Linked DNA regions of Homo sapiens. The protein of the gene in region 1 interacts with the protein of each later gene in a pairwise test. Each region holds a gene or a part of one and is shown in the gene's direction. Other genes may lie near its edges.

The links.
Region 2: the proteins of FRMD3 (region 1) and CYB5B interact in binary tests that used the Homo sapiens proteins (3 or more experiments, as listed by UniProt).
Region 3: the proteins of FRMD3 (region 1) and TMEM201 interact in binary tests that used the Homo sapiens proteins (3 or more experiments, as listed by UniProt).

The regions. Positions count from the first base shown.
Region 1 is NC_000009.12:83,243,618-83,248,810, reverse strand, and holds the end of FRMD3 (FERM domain-containing protein 3), read left to right. Parts: intron 1-294; coding exon 295-893; 3' UTR 894-4,189; downstream 4,190-5,193. UniProt on the Homo sapiens protein: Putative tumor suppressor gene that may be implicated in the origin and progression of lung cancer.
Region 2 is NC_000016.10:69,427,163-69,435,075, forward strand, and holds part of CYB5B (cytochrome b5 type B), read left to right. Parts: intron 1-7,913. UniProt on the Homo sapiens protein: Cytochrome b5 is a membrane-bound hemoprotein functioning as an electron carrier for several membrane-bound oxygenases.
Region 3 is NC_000001.11:9,584,128-9,592,823, forward strand, and holds the start of TMEM201 (transmembrane protein 201), read left to right. Parts: upstream 1-4,783; 5' UTR 4,784-4,803; coding exon 4,804-4,916; intron 4,917-5,228; exon of another isoform or gene 5,229-5,471; intron 5,472-5,479; exon of another isoform or gene 5,480-5,643; intron 5,644-8,696. UniProt on the Homo sapiens protein: Critical regulator of angiogenesis and endothelial cell (EC) migration. Promotes the migration of endothelial cells, which is essential for angiogenesis.

The DNA.
Region 1 (5,193 bases):
CAAGCAAACATGGCCAAGGTTCAAGGTTTGCAGATCAAAATTGCACACCTAAATGTTGTAAATATTGCCAACCATTTGAGAAGTGTTGGTTAGTTTGAGTTTAGCATGTTGACCTTTGAACTTATGGTACAGGGTCTTTTACTATAATACGACTTTGTTACAACTTAGGATACCACAGAATAATTTCATAGATTGCTTGAATCCCATTAGTTTTTTGTTTTTCTGTTTCTTCCTGCAGATTTTTGTGGGAAAATCTGAAATTTTAAATTTAGAAAAAAAAATGTCTCTTTACAGGTGTTCCATTGCCTAAAGAGGAGAACATTTCTGCTCCCTTGATCTCCAGCTCCCCAGTGAAGGCAGCCCGGGAGTATGAAGATCCCCCTAGTGAAGAGGAAGATAAAATAAAAGAAGAACCTTTAACCATCTCTGAACTAGTGTACAACCCAAGTGCCAGCCTGCTCCCCACCCCTGTGGATGACGATGAGATTGACATGCTCTTTGACTGTCCTTCTAGGCTTGAGTTGGAAAGAGAAGACACAGATTCATTTGAGGATCTGGAAGCAGATGAAAACGCCTTTTTGATTGCTGAAGAAGAGGAGCTGAAGGAGGCTCGCCGTGCTTTGTCGTGGAGCTATGACATTCTGACTGGCCATATTCGGGTGAACCCACTGGTCAAGAGTTTTTCCAGGCTCCTTGTGGTGGGCCTGGGACTGCTGCTCTTTGTATTTCCCCTGCTCCTCCTCCTTTTGGAGTCAGGTATTGATCTCTCCTTCTTATGCGAAATCCGCCAGACACCAGAGTTTGAGCAGTTTCACTATGAATACTACTGTCCCCTCAAGGAGTGGGTGGCTGGGAAAGTCCACCTCATCCTCTACATGCTGGGTTGCTCATGAAGTTAATCTCTCACGTGACTAAGGGCTATATTCAATGCTAGTGATTTCTTTTTTTCAGCAAATGCCTGGTTCTGAAGGGTCACGGGGCTGTCAACAGGTGTTCCTTACTCATAATTGATTATTCAAACCTTTAAGTTAGCTTTCCATAATTCACTGCACTTAAATAAGTTTAAATCAAATACAGTTATTTTAGTTACAGGTTAGGAAGATGGTCTTTAAATAACCAAAAATATGTTTATTTTTTATTATAGTGTAGACATACCCTTCATCTATTATATCATAATACATGTTACATTGGACTGAATTAGATTTTCCCATTTCTAATAGTTGGCACCATTATAAGCTATAAGGTTCAGAATCAGAATTTTAGTAACAACTCAAGAGAAAGTTGTTGAATATAATCCTTAGTGAAAACAGTGTCCTCTAACCAATGCCTATACAACTAAATTTATGCTGGGTTTTTGGTTCTGTTTTTTTAAAAATATTTTTATGTGTTCAAACTATTTTGGTAAATTTTTAGCAAAAAAAAAAAAGAAGCCTCCTGGAGTTATTTACATGTACAGATTGTAAGACTAATGCACAAAAGGTATATCAGAATTTTTTTAATGTTTTGGCGCTACTTTGTTTTTAAAAATATTTTTGGCTGAACAATACCATAATTTGTTATGATCTGCATAGGAGATAGAAAATGGGTAGAAAGACACTATAGTAAGTAAGCTGCTAAAACAGAGGATGGAACTGGAGGATGTAGAAACTGAGAGCATCAAGTGGACTCAGGGTGGTCCATTTTTCAAAGTATTTGGACAAGAGGACTTGTTATTTTCATTTGTATTCTGTCCGTATATTTTGGCTGGAGAAGCAGATGTTTTAAAAAGAAAGTGAGAGTTTAAAGGAAAAAAGGTAACAGATGTGCTAGTCAGTTGCATATCAATGTACATTAACCCAAGAGTGAAGGCAGATAGGAACTGGAGAAATGGAAAGTGGCAAAAATGAGTTCTGGTGAGGCTGGCAGGCAAATGGTGACAGGCGAATGGTCTATTTTATGAAAGTGATGGTGATGCCAGCGTTCGATGATGTGAAGAGCAGTGCAGTCGCTGTCTGAGTTAACATGAACATGTTTAAGTGGATCTAAATAAAAGTGGAGAAACTTTAAGGTAAATATTTTGATCCCTCATGCCATTTGTTGTGATTCTGTAGAAGAAACTTCAAAAATGTGTTTGTATGTGAGTGTGCGTGTGTGTGTGTGTGAGAGAGAGAGAGAGAGAGAGAGAGAGAATATGAATGGCTTTTTGATACATGTCCATGATCATGTTTTGCGGTGGTCATTATACTCCTTTCCTTTCCCAGTTGTTTTAAAATTTGACTTCCATAGAGAAACTGGAGAGGCCTCATGAGATGACATACCAGTTCAGCCTGGGTAAAGTAGTGACATGACCCTAACCAGACTGTAGAGGGGACCAGTGCTCTAGTACCTTCCTTGATACCATTAAATCCATGATGGAAAGGATTTAATCCAACAATTTAATGGTATCAAGGAAGGTACTAGAGCATTGTACCATCAGCAACGTACTGATGCCTTCCCATGCAGACTACCTGCTGATACTGTGTTATGTGGGAGAAAGATAAGAGTCTAGAACTTATGCCATGGAGCATAGAGCTTCTCTGTGGATTGAAAACATTCCACTGCCCTAATGTACAAAGTTACAGGGCCCACTTGGAATCGCTCTCTCTAGCTAATGACATTCCAACCCTATCATTAGCATGATTTCTAAATTGGGCAATACATTTCCACTCACTCAGTGGAGCTCTGAGTACTTCACTGGACATTTAATTTTGGAAATGAGTTTTGAAACTCAGTTCGTGAAGCCTGCAGTCGAGCAAATGACTATATATTTGCCATTAAGTTTGAGGGGTTTCCTTTCCTATATGCTTTCAGTGATTTATTTTGCTTTTTAAATAAAGATTGTTTGTTTATTACCTGAAAGTTGATACTGATTTAGGAATATATTTTCTGTGATTGGAATCCTCAACAATTTATTTTGGAAGCTTGCAGATGGCTAGGTTTGAAATTGAAATTTGTGTTTTTCTCCTTCTTTTCTCATACGACTTCTAAGTCATCCTTTCTGACATAAGGCAACTTTAGTGTAGTCTGCACAAAATTAGTCCCCTTCTGATCATGCGTCATATAATTTTCTCTAAAGTTCTGACTATGACAAATCATCTGGCCCTCAGTCTTTCAAAATAATATTATATAATATTTTTTAAATTATGGAACTAATATATTTTCCATTGTAAAATACTTAAAAAATATGATAGTATAAATATCACATGTAATCCAACGATGCAGATTTATCTTAAGGAGTAATAAATATATTATTTTAACATTTCCAGCTAACATCTCTTTTCTCTTAGGTGGAAACTTCATTGTTGAATAGAAATGTTTTTAAGTGAAGAAGTTGACAGAATAGGGTCTGCTGAATTTAAACAGCCATCAAAAGTTAAACTGGAATCTTGAAATGCCATTTGCTCGGCATAGAATCAGAGCCTTTTAGAAACATCCATTTAAGTTTTGTTAGAAGATAGTCACCAGTTGCCTGAATCGAATGAGGAAAAGCCTGCTTCCAGAGATGGACAGTATATTATAGAGTGAGATATAGAGTTTAAAGCAAGTGTGTGAGTATATGTATATTCCATATTATTGGTATATGTGTGTTTATATATGAATCTGTATATATGTGTGTCTTTGAATAGACACAACATATATGCCCCTCATGCATAATTGTGCTTATTTTGCCCTAATTGAGGAATTTGAGATGTATTATTGGTTCTTCTCCCTCTCAGATACTATGGTGGGTAAAACCCACAGCCTGAAAGGGTTAAATTTTCCATAAATGCCACTGAGTGTACATTTGTGGATATAAATAAATATATATAATACACACACACATATGGCAAATACATATACACACACAATATTGCCTTTAGTGCTAATGCAAGTTGGATCATGAAAACAATGTAGGTAAAGTAAAGTATGTATTTGTCTGTGCTTGAAAAATATTGTAAAATGTTATGTATTTGGAATATATTTTGTGGTTTGTCTAATATTTATAAACACAACTCGGGGTGAATTCACAATGAGTTTATTTCATTGAAATACTAGAGATATGGGGGCCATGTTACTGTGATTGGAGCCTTACCTTTGTATAGTGAAATTTGCATTTCTATGTCAACATCCAGATTGTTTTATATGTTAATATGGTGGCAGGAATCCCTAATAAAAATACTCTGGGGTAAAATTTTTTGCAATCATTCAGTTTTATTTAAAGTAAAGTTGTATAGTCAGGTTGTTGGAAACTATAAAAGGATTCCCTCTAGGACCATGAAATGAGGTCAACATATAATGGTGATAGTATTAAAAAAAAAAATCCCAGGTAATAGATTAGATTAACCCTTTGCAGAAGTCATCCAGGCCCAAAGCAGGAATACTAGCACTGAAAATATGCTCAAACATAAAATAAACCTTGATCTAATTCATGATATTAAGTTAACCAGAGAAATAGAAAAGCACAGAAAAAATAATAGAAGAGGGGTATTCTGACTGACAGATAGGAGCATGGATTTCAGAGTGCTAGAAATTAATATGTTATCATCACTGGCCAGAAAAGGGTGCCTTCCCACGCCAGAGAGAGCTGCATGAGACTCAACTCTGTGACACTTGCCATTAAACTTCTCTATCTGTTCACGCACCTTGGAGGAATCTCACGATTCCACTTTTTTTTTTTTGAGATGATGATGGAGTTTTGCTCTTGTTGCCCAGGCTGGAGTGCAATGGCACGATCACGGCTCACCGCAACCTCCTCCTCCTGGGTTCAAGCAATTCTCCTGCCTCAGCTTCCTGAGTAGCTGGAATTACAGGCATGCACCACCACATCCAGCTAATTTTTTGTATTTTCAGTAGAGGTTGGGTTCCTCCGTGTTGGTCAGGCTGGTCATGATTCCACTTCTATCCTCCCCTCTGCCCAGCGTAGCCTTGACAGGTCTTCTGCTTAGGTTTGGCGCAAAGCTAACAACTCCATACCTAACAGTTAAACCAAAAGGTGTTACTTGGAATGAAACAAAAGGGGTAGGGGAGTTCTCTTAATTGCAGGAATACAATAGAAGTCAAGCAGAATTGGCCCTTAGCTATGGTGGCCTCATGCCTTATTCAGCAGTCCTTAGAAGTACAGGCTCTAGACTACAGGCAAGAAAAGGAATTCAGTGATTAGCATTCAGATGTGAGGAAGCTTACGGACCTATAGTT
Region 2 (7,913 bases), on another chromosome or scaffold:
GAGGTGGAGGCTGCAGTGAGGTGAGATGGTGCTGCTGCACTCCAGCCTGGGTGACAGAGTGAGACTCCATCTCAAAAAAAGAAAAAAAAAATCATGTTTTTCATTTGTGGTTTTATTTCCCTCCATTTTTTTTCTTGATTGATTCAGAATAGATGGTGAGCTTGGAGGGAACACTCAGCCCTTACAGAGAGCATTAATTCAGTCTCAAGTAATAGTTGCTAACCTGTTTCTTTCTTTTTTTTTTTCCTCTGTGAAGATTCCAGAAGTAACTAACCTGTTTCAACCACATGCTGATATAGCCAGAGACATCACTAATGTGCCAAGGTTTCTCTTGGAGCTTGAGCTGCAGCTCTTTACCTGCAGTTTTGTTTTTTTTGTTTTGTTTTTTGAGACAAGGTCTTACTTTCACCCAGGCTGGAGTGCAGCTCACTGCAGCCTCAGTCTCCTGGGGTCAAGTGATCCTTCTATTTCAACCTCCCGAATAGCTGGGAAAAGGTGTGCACCACGACGCCTGGCTAATTTTTAAAATTTTTTGTAGAATTGGGGTCCCACTGGCTGGGTGTGGGCTCATACCTGTAATCCCAGCACTTTGCGAGGCGAAGGTGGGCAGATCATGAGGTAAGGAGTTCCAGACCAGCCTGACCAAAATGGTGAAACCTCGTCTCTACTAAAAATACAAAAAAATTAGCTGGGCGTGGTGGCACACACCCGTAATCCCAGCTACTCAGGAGGCTGAGGCAGGAGAATCGCTTGAACCCGGGAGGTGGAGGTTGCAGTGAGCCAAGATGGTGCCGTTGCACTCCAGCCTGGGCGACAGTCAGACTCTGTCTCAAAAAAAAAAAAAAAAAGAATTGGGGTCCCACTATTGCCCAGTGTGGTCTGGAACTCCTGGGCTCAAGGGATCCTCCTGCCTGGGCCTCCCAAAGTGCTGAGATTACAGGTGTGAGCCACTGTGCTCAGCCTAATTAGCTATTCTTATTTATTCTGTTTTCTTGTTCATTCCAAGCCTATTCATTCATTCACTTATTCAAATATTTATTAAGCCTTTACTATGTTCTAGACACTGTTCTAGGTGCTGGGGATTTAGTAGTGAATAAACAGCTATGCCCTCATGGAGATTACATGGCACAGGAGGCAGACGATAAGCAGAGTAAATAACTAAAATATATACTACATTAGGTAGTGGTAAGTGCTAAGAAGAAAAATAATACAGGGGGCTGGACACGGTGGCTTAGGCCTGTAATCCCAGCACTTTGGGAGGCCGAGGCGGATGGATCATGAGGTCGGGATTGAGACCATCCTGGCCAACATGGTGAAACCCCATCTCTACTAAAAATACAAAAATTAGCTGGGCATGGTGGCATGTGCCTGTACTCTCATCTACTTGGGAGGCTGAGGCAGGAGAATCACTTGAACCCAGAAGTTGGAGGTTGCAGCGATCCAAGATTGTGGCACTGAACTCCAGTCTGGTGATAGAGTGAGACTCCGTCACAAATGAAAAAAAAAAGAAAAATAATACAGGGAAGAGGACTGTGGAATATTTATGTGGTGTGAGGAGGAGGGTTTGAAATTTTAGCGATGGTGCCGAGATAACTTTATGAAGATGACTAAGTAAAGGCCAGGAGCAAAGTAAAGGAGCTAGCCATGAGGGTATCTGTAGGAAGAGCATAGAGCATTCCTGGCAGAGGAAACAAGTTCAAAGGCCTTGAGATGGGAGGATGTCTGGTATGTTTGAGGAACAGTCAGGGAGGCCACAGTGGTTGAATAGTTGCACATGAGATCAGAATGATCAGGGGAGGACAAATCATGTACAACTTCACAGGTTTTAGGAAGGACTTTGGCTTTTATTCTGAGATGGGAAATCATTGGAGCAGAAGAGTGACATGATGTGACTTAATGGCGTAATAGGATCGTTCTGACTACATTGTTGTGAAAGACTGAAGGAAGAGTGTGTCTGGAGTTGGTTCCTTCCGGTGGGTTTTTGGTCTCTCTGACTTGAAGAATGAAGCCATAGACCTTCGCGGTGAGTGTTATAGCTCTTAAAGGTGGCACAGACCCAAAGAGTGAGTAGCAGCAAGATTTATTGTGAAGAGTGAAAGAACAAAGTTTCCACAGTGTGGAAAGGGACCAGAGCAGGTTGATGCTGCTGGCTGGGGTGGCCAGCTTTTATTCCCTTATTTGTCCCCGCCCACATCCTGCTGATTGGTCCATTTTACAGAGTGCCGATTGGTCCATTTTTACAGAGTGCTGATTGGTGCATTTACAATCCTTTAGCTAGACACAGAGTGCTGATTGGTGCATTTTTACAGCATACTGATTGGTGCATTTACAATCCTCTAGCTAGACACAAAAGTTTGCCAAGTCCCCACTCCACCCAGGAAGTCCAGCTGGCTTTGCCTTCTTAAGAGGACAAGGGCAGAATTGAGGAGACCAGTTAGGAGGCTGTTTTAGTAATTAGGCAAGAGATAGTGGGTTGTACCAGAACAAGTGTCAGATTTTGGATGTGTTGTGATGGAAGAGCCAATAGGATTTAATGATGCGCCAGATTTGGGGAATGAAAGAAAAATGAGTCAAGGATAACACCAAAGTTTTTGGCTTATGAGTCTTCAAGAGTTGGGTTGCTATTAGATGAGAGAGGGAAGATTTACATTGGTATTCATCCTTCTCTTTCCAATCTGATGTCACTTTGGGGCCCCTCCTTTAGCAAGAGGTTCCTAATCTTAAGTGTCCTGTGTCTGTAGCTTACCATTTTTTTGATTAATGACTGGTTAGAGTATGATACTGGAGTTTGAATGTGGTAGTTTAGAATTAGTAATATAATTGAATTGTCTTTCCCTGGCAGATTAATTTTGCATTGTTTGAATCAGTGCATTCATGAGTTGTTGAAATCATGAATGAAAGTAGTACATGTCATTATCTTTCCACCATTTAGTAGTTTAGAAAAATCACATAAAAATGATTGTAATATCTTATGACATTGATAGAAAATATCAAAGTGCATCTCTCTTATCAAGGGTAAAATTTTGTGAAACTTTGTTCAGTTATATATAATGTATTTTTTTTTCTTTTTTTTGGAGACAGTCTGGCTCTGTTGTCCAGGCTTGAGTGCAGTGGTGCCATCTTGGCTCACTGCAGCCTCTGCCTCCTGGGCTCAAACAATCCTCCGCCTCAGCCTCCCAGGTAGCTGGGACTACAGGTATGTACTACCACACCCTGCTAATTTTTTTGGTATTTTTTTTGTAGAGATGGGGTTTCATCATGTTGCCCAGGCTGGCCTCAAACTCCGGGCTCAAGTGATCCTTCCGCCTTGGCCTCCCAAAATGTTGGGATTACAGGCATGAGCCACTGTGCCTGGCCTATAATATCTCATGTATATGGTGTTTATTGGATTGCAGTGTAAAATTATTTCCTTACTGGGTATTACAAGTGAAAATTTGGAAGCCATTGACTTGTGTATAAATAGTCATTTGTCAAAAGAGTAACTTGAAATAACATTGTGATATTTTAAAACTTTTTTTTTTTTTTTTTGAGACAGAGTTTCACTCTTGTCGCCCAGGCTGCAGTGCAATGGCATGGTCTCAGCTCACTGCAACCTCTGCCTCCCAGGTTCAAGTGATTCTCCTGCTTCAGCCTCCTGAGTAGCTGGGATTACAGGTGAATGCCACCATGCCCGGCTAATTTTTCTATTTTAGTAGAGATGGGGTTTTGCCATGTTGGCCAGGCTGGGCTTGAACTCCTGACCTCCGGTGATTCACCCGCCTCGGCCTCCCAAAGTGCTGGGATTACAGGTGTGAGCCACCATGCCCAGCCCTATTTTAAAGCTTTATATGTGTATTTATTTATTTATTTATTTTGAGATGGAGTCTTGTTTTGTCGCCCAGGCTGGAGTGCAGTAGCATTACCTTGGCTCACTGCAACCTCTGCCTCCTGGGTTCAAGCGATTTTCCTGCCTCAGCCTCTGGAGTAGCTGGCACTACAGGTCCCTCCCACCACACCTGGCTAGTTTTTATGAGATGGGGTTTCACCATGTTAGGTAGGCTGGTCTCGAACTCCTGACCTCAAGTGATCTGCCCACCTTGGCCTCCCAAAGTGCTGGGATTACAGGTGTGAGCCACGGCACCGGCCTATATGTGTTTTTAGAAACTGTCACCATAAATGAGAATATTACTTTAGGAACCATCTCATAAATGGGATAACATTTTATTAACCCAACAAATATTTGTTAAGTTCTATATAGTAGTAGGCCCTGGTGGTGTATAAAAATAAACATAAACATGGAACCCCAGCCTGGGCGACAGAGTGAGATTCTGTCTTAAAAACAAAACAAAGCTGGGTGCAGTGGCTCACGCCTGTAATCCCAGCACTTTGGGAAGCCAAGGTGGACAGATCACTTGAGCTCAGGAGTTTGAGACCAGCCTAGGCAACATGGCAAAACCCCATCTCTACAAAAAATACGAAAATTAGACGAGCATGGTGGCATGAGCCTGTAGTCCCAGCTCCTCAGGAGGCAGGGGTGGGAGAAGGGCTTGAGGCCAGGACATCGAGGCTGCAGTGAGCCGAGATAGCACTACTGCACTCCAGCCTGGGTGACAGCGAGACCCTGTCTCCAAACAAACAAAACGAAAATATCCCATGATACTGCCTTCTTGAAGCTACCATTCTAGAGGAGTCAAAACAAAAACAGACAGATGAAATAATTTTAAATTATGGCACTTTTATGAAGAAAACAAATGAGTTGAGAAAGAAAAATCAGGAAAGATTTAATTTAATAAGAGTGATCTGGGAAAGCCTCTGTGAGAAGATAACATTTAATTGAGCTGATGGTCATGAACCTGATTTGGAAAGAATACAGAAAAGAGCATTCCAGCAGCATTTGAAGTCAAGCAAGAGTTTGGCACATTAGTGGGACTGAAAGAAGCTGTGTCTATAGTGAATGAAGGACAAGAATGGCCAGAGAGCTAGGCGGGACCCAGGACATGCAAGGTCTGGTAGGTAGTTTGGATTTGATCCAAAAGGTAATAGAAAACCACTGACATGTTTGAAGATGAGGGATGACATTGAAGCAATTTACAGACAGTCCCTGACTTACTAGGGCTTGACTTAAAATTTTTTGACTTTACCATGGTGTGAAAGTGATATGTGAGTACTCATACAAGCATTCTGTTTTTCACTTTCAGTATGGTATTCAATAAATTACATGAAATAGTCAGCACTTTATTGTAAGATAGGCTTCATGTTAGATGATTTTGCCCAACTGTAGGCTAACGTAAATGTTCTGAACACATTTAAGTTAGGGTAGGCTAAACTCTTTCAATCCCAATAATTTGTTTGAATACTACATCTTCCGTGCATATACTTATATGTGCAAACATGTATATACTTATATATACAAATATGTACAAATATATACAGAAATAGAGTCATAGTATTCTATTAGTTGATTTGCCCTCGTAGTCGTCATAGTATTTATTGAGTGCTTATTATTCTAAGTGCTTTACATGTAATTTCTCTTTTAAGCCTCCCAACAACCTGTTTTAGAGGTGAGAAAACAGGAGCAGAGGAGTAACTTTCACAGAGTCATAAAGTTAGGTGGCACAGGTGAGATTTGAAATCAAGCACTGTGACCCTATAGCCTGTACTCCTTTTTTTTTTGAGACAGAGTCTCGTTCTATCACCCAGGCTGGAGTGCAATGGCGCGATCTCAGCCCACTGCAACTTCCACCTCCCGGGTTCAAGCGATTCTCCCTGCCTCAGCCTCCTGAGTAGCTGGGATTACAGGCACCTGCCACCACATCTGGCTAATTTTTGTAGTTTTAATAGAGACGGGGTTTTGCCGTGTTGGCCGGGCTGGTCTCAAACTACTGACCTCAGGTGATCCGCCTGCCTCAGCCTCCCAAAGTGCTGGGATTACAGGCCTGAGCCACCATGCCCGGCCTGTGGCCTGTACTCTTAACCGTACCCTAGGATCTGCCTCAATGTTTTTCATGGCTGCAGAGTATGGAATTAGGTCTGTTTTATAGCTTTGTTCACATTTTAAATATAATTTGGAAGGATTGGGAATGTGGTATAGGGAAGTTAGAACAGATACCCCTTTCCTGGAACCTAGGTAATTTTTTTCATTTTTTAAGTAGGTCAAACAGGTATATAGTAAAAAGCCACCTTCCCCTCTGCCCAGTTTCACTGCCTCCTAAAGTTAACTCCCATTGTTTGTGTATCCCTCTAGTTTCTTTTTGCCTGTACAAGCCAAAGTGAATGTAGTTTCTCTTTTTTTACACAAAAGATAACATACTATGCACACTCATCTGTGTCTTGCCTTTTTCACTTAACTGTGTATCTCAGGGATCTTTCCATAGCAATAACTGGCATCCCTCCTCCTCCTTCACCACAGCTGCATAGGATTTATTATATGGATCATTATTTAAGCAGTATCCTATTGATAAACATTTGGGTTTTTCAATATTTTGCTGTCACATTTTTTTCTCTAAATCAACTTAATTGAAATCAAATGTAGGGACAATAAAATGTACAGATTTTGAATGTAGAGTTCAGTGAGTTTTGACAAATGTCTCATCTGTATAATCACCATCACAATCAATATACGGTCATGGGTCACTTCACAATGAGGGTGCATTCTGAGAACTGCATCATTAGTTGATTTTACCCCTTCACAAACATCATAGAGTATATTTACACAAACCTAGGTAGTATAGCCTGCTACACACCTTAGCTGTACGGTATAGTCTCTTGTTCCTAGGCTATAAACCTGTACAAACCTGTAGGCAGTTGTGACACAGTAACAAGTATTTGTGCATCTAAACATAGAAAAGGTGCAATAAAAATATGGTATTATAATCTTATGGGACCACCATCATATATATGGTCCATTGTTGACCATATTATGTGGCACATAACTGTAGAACATTTCTACCAGTGTTGTCCCCATACACACTCATTTTATTTCTAACACTATAGTACGTACTCTTCTGTCTAGCTTCTTTTGCTCAGTATATCTGTGAGATTCATCTATTTTTTCTGTGTTATCAGTGATTTGTAACTTATGATTTCATTGTGTGAACATACCAAAATTTGTTTATCCATTCACTTGTTGATTGACATTTGGGTTGTCTCCAGTTTGGGGCTGTTATGAATAAAACTGCTAGGAACTGTCATGTACAAATCTTTGTGTGGACATATGATTTTATTCCTCCTGGGCAAATACCTAGTAGTAAAATTGCTAGGAGTGAGATTACTAGGTTATATGTCTGTTTAACTTTTTAAGCAACTGCCAGAGCATTTTCCAAAGTGTTTATATAATTTTATACTCCCACCACAATGTAGGTTTTCCAGTTTCTTCACATCTTCATTGATACATTGTATTTGTCAGTTATTTTACTTTTAACCATTCTAATGGGTGTGTGGTTGGCCAGGTGCTGTGGCTCACGCCTGTAATCCCAGCCCTTTGGGAGGCTGAGGTGGGCAGATCACGAGGTCAGCAGATCGAGACCAGCCTGGCCAACATAGTGAAACCCCATCTCTTCTAAAAATACAAAGTTAGCCACGTGTGGTGGCAGGTGCCTGTAGTCCCAGCTACTTGGGAGGCTGAGGCAGGAGAATCGCTTGAACCCGGGAGGTGGAGGTTGCAGTGAGCTGAGATCGCGCCACTGCACTCCAACCTGGGTGACAGAGCAAGACTTCATCTCAAAAAAAAAAAAAAAAAAATCATTGTAATGGGTGTGTAATGGTATATAATTGTGGTTTTAACTTGCATTTTCCTGATGACTAATGATGTTGTATCTTTCCATGGGCTTATTGGCCATTTATATATGCCTTTTTATGAAGTATCTGGTCTTGCCCTTTGTAAAATTGGGTTGTTTGTTATTTTTGACTTGAAAGCATTTTTTTCTAGTGGCTGG
Region 3 (8,696 bases), on another chromosome or scaffold:
TATATTGTACATGAAGGTTGGTTTTCAATTTGAACGTCTAGAAAGATACTCATTTCTAATACCTATGCACTGTAGTTTCAGGTTTACTTGCAGACACCCTGGTAGGGTTAAGAGGAGGATATTTCCAAGTTATTTTAAATTGAGTTTACTTTTAACTGGGGTTCTTGACTCTAGTGTAATTGCTCCAACAACTACGTAGAAGTCAAAATGAGTGACTTTAGTGAAGCTTCTGTACTTTACAATACATGACAGTAATGCTATTCCAGAAGTTTTGTTTTGTTTTGTTTTGAGATGGAGTCTCGCTCTGTCTCTCCCAGGCTGGAGTGCAGTGGCACAATCTCGGCTCACTACAGCCTCCACCTCCCGGTTTCAAGCAATTCTCCTGTCTTAGCCTCCTGAGTAGCTGGGACTACAGGCATGCGCCACCACACCTGGCTAATTTTGTATTTTTAGTAGAGATGGGGTTTCACCATGTTGGCCAGGCTGGTCTCAAACTCTTGACCTCAGGTGATCTACCCGCCTCGGCCTCCCAAAGTACTGGGATTACAGGAGGGAGCCACCATACCTGGCCCGCGCCGCCCCTTCCTTTGTTGTTATTGTTGTTTTGAGACAAGGTATCACTCGATCACTGAAGCTGGATACAGTGGCAAGATCATAGCTCACTGTAACCTCAAACTCCTGGGCACAAGGGATCCTCGCATCTCAGCCTCCCAAGTAGCTTGGACCACAGGAAAGTACCACCATGCCCAGCTAATGTTTTTTCATTTTTTGTGCAGACGAGGTTTTGCTATGTTGTCCAGGCTGGTCTCAGACTACTGGCCAGAAGCGATCTTACCTCCTCAGCCTCCCAAAGCACTGGAATTACAGAGTAACATCTAATTTTAATATTCACATTCCTATTTTAATATTCATATTCGATGATGGCACTTAGCAACATCCTCCTATATCCATATTAAAACCTGTTTTCCAAGATTGTGTCTAATATGAAGGTGTAAAATTGCTTTGTTTTCACTCCTTCTTGAATGAATAAATTTGATAGTAACCAATTATAATTTTAGTTTTCTGCTTCTCCTGCCCCAGGGCATGGAAATGCAAGCTGCTTAGGCACCCAAAGTAGGAAAGAAGTGATGGTTCCTCTGTAAAGGGCTCATTAGCTTTAAAAATGGGAAATACCTGTGGTTTTTCTCTTAATTTTTGTGGGTATATAGGAGGTATATATATTTATGGGGTACATGAGATGTTTTGATACAGGCGTGCAACGTGAAATAAGCACATCATGAAGAATGGGGTATCCATCCCTTCAAGCGTGTATCCATTGAGTTGCAAACAATCCAGTTACACTCTTGTTATTCTGAAATGCACAGTTAATGTTGGGGTTGGGTGGTTCACGCTTGTAATCCCAGCACTTTGGGAGGGTGAGGCAGGTGGAGGATCACTTGCGCTCAGGAGTTCGAGACCAGCCTGGCAACATGGTGAAACCCTGTCTTTATTTAAAAAAAAAAAAAAAAGCTGGGTGCGGTGGTGTGCACTTGTGGTCTCAGCTACTCCAGAGGCTGAGGCAGGAGAATGAAGGACTTGAGCCCAGGAGGCGGAGGTTGCCGTGAGCTGAGATGGCACCATTGCAGTCCAGCTTGGGTGACAGGAGTGACCCTGTCTCAAAAGTACGATTAAATTATTATTGACTGTAGTCATCCTGTTGTGCTTTTTTCTTTCTCTTTTTTTAATATAAAGATTTTTTAAATTAAAACAATTTTTTTTTGAGACGGAGTCTCGCTCTGTGGCCCAGGCTGAAGTGCAATGGCATGATCTCGGCTCACTGCAACCTCCACCTCCTGGGTTCAAGCGATTCTCCTGCCTCAGCCTCCCAAGTATCTGGAATTACAGGTGCCCGCCACCACGCCTGGCTAATTTTTGTATTTTTAGTAGAGACAGGGTTTCACCATATTGGCCAGGCTGGTCTCAAACTCCTGATCTCAAGTTATCTGCCTGCCTTGGCCTCCCAAAGTGCTGGGATTACAGGCATTAGCCACCTTGCGGTAGCTCACACCTGTAATCCCAGCACTTTGGGAGGCTGAGGAAGGAGAATTGCTTGAGGCCAGGAGTTCAAGGCCAGCCTGGGCAACATAGGGAGACCTTCTCTTTACAAAAAAATTAGCTGAGCATGCACCTGTAGTCCCAGCTACTTGGGAGGCTGAGGTGGGAGGATCCCTTGAGGCCAGGAGGTTGAGGCTGCAGTGAGCCATGGGATTGTGCCACTCTACTCCAATCTGGACGACAGAGCAAGAGGGGCATCTGAGCCTGTGGAATGGTCTGACTTCAAAGTCAAGATCTGACAAACCATTTCATTCCTTTTACTTAAGAATTACAGATCCATGGATGATACTGCTGATAAAGGTGTGCTTAAACTAATGCACGTAATAGAATTGGCCACATAAAGAGTCCTTTGGGTGGGACATGCAAACTGAATCTTCCTTGGGAAGCAAATGGCACTTAAACACAATGCCTGCCTGCTGTTTTGAGGGAAGATACACCTTAAATGATTATTTTGTTTGCTCATGGCTGGTGAAAGCATCAAGACTGCATGGAAAGGCTTTTGCTGGGATACTCACAAGAAAGAGGAGGTCCAGACCCAAGTGAACCTCCAGGTTTCCTGTCTGCTTCACTTTCCAGTCCCCCTTCCCCCCAGTGAATGTGCATGATTCCGGTGTGGACAGAGGAACTGGCTGCAGGAGCAAAAAAACATTTGCCCTCAATCCATCACTACCCACAAAGAGTTTACAATGTTAACCTCAAAAAAAAAAAAGTGATCAGAACACTGGAACATAGTGTGTAATTAGATACAAATATTTTCTGTTTACTTTTTTAAAACTAGTAATTTAGCTGAAATCAATAATGAAACACAGTGACTCTTCCCCTTGAATCTCCTCCCACCACCAGGTAATCAGTTTGCAGTTCAGTGTTAACTATTCTCCACTTCCCACAAGCACATAAGGCTTTATTTAAGCTTTGGATATTATTTAAAAATCAATCTGCATGTTGCTTTTTCTTTTTCTTTTTCTTTTTTTTTTTTTTTTTGAGATGGAGTCTCACTCTGTTGCCAGGCTGGAGTGCAGTGACGCAACCTCAGCTCGCTGCAACCTCCGCCTCCTGGGTTCAAGCAATTCTCCTGCCTTAGCCTCCCATGTAGCTGGGACTACAGGCGCCCACCACCACACCCAGCTAATTTTTGTATTTTTAGTGGAGACCAGGTTTCACCATGTTGGTCAGGATGGTCTCCAGCTCCTGACCTTGTGATCCGCCTGCCTCGGCCTCCCAAAATGCTGGAATTACAGGCGTGAGCCACCATGTGCCCGGCCTGCATGTTGCTTTTTTGTTGTCGTTTTTGTTTTTTCAGAAGGAGTCTCCTGTCACCAGGCTGGAATGCAGCGGCACAATCTTGACTCGTTGCAACCTCCGCCTCCCAGGTTCAAGCGATTCTTGTGCCTCAGCTTCCCGAGTAGCTGGGATTACAGGTGTGCACCACCACGCCCGGCTAATTTTTGTATTTTCAGTAGAGATGGGGTTTCACCATGTTGCCCAGGCTGGTCTTGAACTTCTGACCTCAGGTGATCCGCCCGCCTCGGCCTCCCAAAGTGCTGGAATTACAGGTGTGAGCCACCGCGCCCTGCCTGCATGTTGCTTTTTAAAAACAATGTATCATCCATCTATGCCAATAACTCCAGATCTGGCTTTCTTTTCTTTTCTTCCTTTCTTTCTTTCCTTCTTTCCTTCCTTCTTTCCTTTCTTCCTTCCTTCCTTCTTTCTCTCTCTCTCTCTTTCCTTGCCTTTCCTTTCTTTTTTGAGAAGGAGTCTCGCTTTTGTCGCCCAGGCTGGAGTGCAGTGGCGCGATCTCGGCTCACTGCAAGCTTCGCCTCCCGGGTTCACGCCATTCTCCTGCCTCAGCCTCCCGAGTAGCTGGGACTACAGGCGCCCGCCACCACGCCCGGCTAATTTTTTGTATTTTTAGTAGAGAGGGGGTTTCACCGTGTTAGCCAGGATGGTCTCGATCTCCTGACCTCGTGATCCGCCCGCCTCGGCCTCTCAAAGTGCTGGGATTACAGGCGTGAGCCACCGCGCCCTGCCTGGATCTGGCATTCTTTCTAATGGTTGCATTATGTTCCGAACTATGGCTGTCCTATGATTTATTCAACCATGTCCCTATCCGTGGATGATCGTGTTTCTAAAAAGCTAGTTTTTCAACCATTAGAGCGGCTCAAGGAGCTGCTAAACAGCACTGGGCGCATAGGCTGGGTTTGACTAGACAGGATTAGCGAGGGGGAAAAAGACTAATTACAAGCAGTTGCGTACTCTGGAGATGCTCCCCTTAGCAGAAGCTCGGTGGACTGTCTGCAGCCAGACCTCCGGGCCTGGCGGCTGGCGCGGGAGGCAGAAGGCGGGGCTTTCCTACAGGGCTCCGTGCCCCGCCCTCCCCGCGCCGCCTTCCACCTCCGGCCGCGCGGGGGCGCTCCCCGGCCGGCTCTGTCGCTTCCGCCGCCGCCCCGCCCACCCGGGCTCACCCCTCGTCCCGATTGGCTGCGCGACGGGAGCGCGCCGAGTCAGGGGGCGGGCCCGCGCCCGCTACAAAGCGGCGAAGGTCACGGCGCGAGGAGGCGCGCGTCGCCGCCCCGCGTCCCGCCTGCGGCCCGCGCCCCCGGCGTCACCGCCTCCTGCCCGCCTGCCCGCCTGCCCGCCTGCCCGCCTACCCGCCTACCCGCCTACCCGCCTACCCCCCTGCCGGCCTGCCGTCCTTCCACGCGGAGAGCCATGGAGGGAGTGAGCGCGCTGCTGGCCCGCTGCCCCACGGCCGGCCTGGCCGGCGGCCTGGGGGTCACGGCGTGCGCCGCGGCCGGCGTGTTGCTCTACCGGATCGCGCGGAGGTGAGTGCATGGTTCGGCCCCACGCGGCCCTCTGCGCCGCCCGCCAGGCCCGCCCCCGCGCCGCCCCGGCCCGCTGCCCCCCTCGGCCGGGACCCGGGCTGCCCGCGGGCGCGCGGAGACCCCCGGCGCGCGCCGCCGCCCCCCGAGACCGGGTTGAGACTGCAGTCGGGAAGCGGCTGCGGAGTCGAGTGGAGCGGCGGGGACTCCGGGAACGTGGGGCGCGGGCGAGAGCGCCGCGCGGGGGCCACAAACTTCCTCCGGGAGCCGCGGGGGGCTGGAGCCGGTGCGCACGGGCCGCCCCTGCCCTCAGCCCCGTGCTGGGCCCCGGTGCACGGCGATGCTGGCGATCGCGGCTGGCGGTTGCTGCTCGGCATGTGACGTCCCGGGCGTTTTTCTACACGCCTCGCATCCGCGCGTTTCAGAGCCACAGCCCCTGCTTACGCTAGAGCAGCTGAGGGACAGGGAGGCTCAGTAACTTGCTGTTAATGAGAGGAATCATGGTTTGAGCCGATGGAATCTGCAGGGCAGACCCCGAGGCTGGGCTGCCTCCCAGAGGTGGGCAAGGCCTGAGATGCCTCCAAACAGTTCAAGACGGGCCGGGGCCACCCTCCTCCCTGCCCGGCTCACGGGCCATGCGGGCCCCCGGGTTCAGATCCGGCCTCTTTCATCGGCCTCCATCGCCAGGCATAAAAGCTTAGTGGCCTGTTGCTTCAGCAGAGCCTCGCAGGTAGCTTACTGTTTCTCCACTTGATCCACCTTTCCAGAGGGCAGGGGGGAAAGTGGGGTTGTGAGAACATCCTAGAAAGAGTGGATGGGTTTGCAGCTTCGGCAAGGGATGCAATGAGCTCACACCCTTAGGAAAAAGGGGAGAAGGGACTTGCCCACTCAGCAGCAAGTGGCAGAGCTGGGGTTTGAACCCTGATCGTCTGGCTGGTCTGTTTGTTCTTCCTTAACACATACCGGTGCTGCTTCTCTCCTCCAGGGGGGAAACGGGGAAAAAGAAGTACAGGTGGTTGAGTCACAGAGGCTTCCCAGAGGAGGAAGGCATGGGAGGGACATCAGCTGTGTCTGGAGGATGGGCCAGATGTGACTGAGGAGGGTAGCTGGGGATTGAGTGACCCCAGCCCAGAGGTCCCTGACAACCCAAGTCTCTCCATGTCGGTTTCTGCTGGATTCCTGGAAGTTGAGCATCTGCAGGACCAGCTTGTCCAAGCCGGTGGTTTTATACCCAGGGGACCGAGGTCCAGAGACCTCAGGTGATTTGCTCACATTCCCAGAGCATGTTGCCAGCTGAGCTGGTCCAGCACCCGGTGTTCTTCCTGGACGAAGCCGCCTCTCAGCTAACCCAGGATGGGGGGTGTTGCCTCAAGGATGAGAGCCTGGGGGAGGGGATAGTCTGCCAGCCACACAGCACCTCCGTTGTGTTTATTGAGGCTGGACTTGGACTGGGTGGCTCACTGTGCCACACACTGCAGCTGTCCTCAGGGATGCTGTCTCCCCTTCCTGCCCTGCTGGCCACAGCTCTCCATCTCCTGGAAACAAGAGTCTGGGGCCTTGGAGAGATATTGGGCTAGCTGGTGCCAGGGGAACTAGGAGGGTGCCTGGAAGTCCTTTCACGCCCCTGACGACACCAGCAGGTCACGGTGTGGCATTGAGACCCTTGCTGTTGATTGGGCCGAGAAGGGCCAGCCTTTCCCAGGATGCTTTAAGATGTCCTCATAGAGCACTGGGTTTCACCTGGAGGTCATAAATTGGCCACTGTCACGATTCAGAAGCCAGACCAACCTAGCAAGAGGTTGAGCCTTCCTCCGAGGAGGAGAGTGCTGTGACAGTGAGGAACCAAGCATTGACTCTGGCTGCAGTGTAGGTTTTGAATGACCCTCGGGAGGGCATGTAAGGAGAGCTGTTTTTGGAAGGCGACTTGGCTGGGTGGGTGTTTGCAGGCTCAGCACAGAGATGGACAGAGAGGAAGATGTAGAGGGAGTGGGCAGGTCAGCCCCACCTTGTGCTTTAGGACTGGCTGAGGCGCATGGGAAGGAGGCTGCTTCTCTGAAGGACTGAGTCCTCCCACAGCCTCAGTCAGGGCCCGCCCTGGCTTCCCCACGCATGGAGTCCTCTCGCTTCCATGGTTGTTACTGATGGGAGCAGCTGATGGCTGTAAGCACAGCACACTGTCTCCTCATGAAACTGCCAGGGCGGGCTCTACTGTTCTCCCATTTTACAGATGAGGAAACCAAAGCTTGGGGAGGTTGGGCTACCTGCCCCACATCACCCGGCTGTTAAATGGCAGGGCCCTGCCTCGCACCAGAACTTCAGCTTGTCAGCCCAGCTTCAACCTCTGGGTGCTCATGGAGCCCCTTGGCTGCTTCTCTGCACCTATGGGAAGCCACCACGGTCGGCACAGTTGGGGGGCAGATGCCCCAGTTTCACTTCCCTGTGTCCAGGCCGTCGTGAAGTCTGTGGCTTCCTAGGCCTCCCTGTCCCCTGGACGCTGCTGCTCGGGTGCCTGTCCTCAGCCCTCTTCAAACGATGCCCAGGATCCGTGCTCTGCCAGCACATCCCTGCACACACCACCGCCCCGCCTCCGGGGCTTTGTTGGTGTTTACTGGGATTGTCTCCTTTCTAGTGTTTGGGGACAAAGAGGATGCAGCCTCCCAGAGGATATGCAGCAGAGCCTCATTCTGGAAGTCAGAGTCCCCTGTAACGGCCCTTCCCGTTTCCAGGCTCCCCCCTCCCACTCACTCTCCTGCTGCTGCGCACTCTCCCTGAGCAACCGCCGCACCCCGGGCATACGTTGGGTGGTCCCCTCCCTCTGCCGTCTGCCCTGCTGGTGAGCACAGCTGTGCTTCAGGGCGACCGCAGATGCCCCGCTTATTGGCCTCTGTCCTGTGGTATCTGTCACCAGCTGCCCTGGGAGGTCGTCGTTCTTGTCTTGCTCACGTTTGCATCTCTGCCAGCCTAGGGTGGTGCTTGCTTAACTGATGGGATGTTCCGCTCGCACCAGGAGCGACCCTAGAATGGTGGATTGGGGCGTTTTCCATCCTGATGTTGGAGTTGCTGCTGTGGATTCAAGTATGTTTTGCTTGGAGATGGGCTGGAGGCCCTGGCAGTGCTAAGTTCTGAGTTGCATTTTGATGCTTCTGTCGCTGAAGCCCAGGAGGCCTCTTCTCTGGTCCTTCTGGTTGAATGAAACACGGTGTTGCCCACTTAAGCGGGAAGTGCAGGTGAGGAGCTGCTTGGGAGGCTGGCCTCTGGCTCCCTGGCCCCTGAGGGAACCTGACTCTTACAGTCTTTCCAACCCCGCACTGGGGCCAGCACACAGTGTCCCAGGTCCTGAGCAATGTGCTAAGGCCCCTGTCTGAGGAGGTGATGATTTCCCAGGGCTGGGCAGAGACTCTGGGAGCTGGCCAGCCTGCTACAACCACTGAGCTCCCCAGGGCAGGGACCAAGCCCCATCCAGTGCCCCCTCTAGCAGGTTCCCCCTACCTGGTGCTTTCCTAGGCTGAGGACCCAGCGCTGGGCTCGCACCTAGAACAGAGCCCCTCCCACCTGCAGGGAATAGTGAGGCATCCCGCAGGAGCTTTGTTTCAATACATGTCCGTGCTCAGGGCTCTGGAGTGGTGTCATCATTAAGGACACGTGCCCGTCTTGTTTTCCCTCAGTGTGTATGTTGGGCTTGTGGACGGGGCAGGTACAGAGCATGCAGCTGCCCTAGCTTTTTCTTAGGGACCCATCTCCCTCCGGGCTTCCTCAGGCTTCCCAGGGGCTCGGCATCGAGCT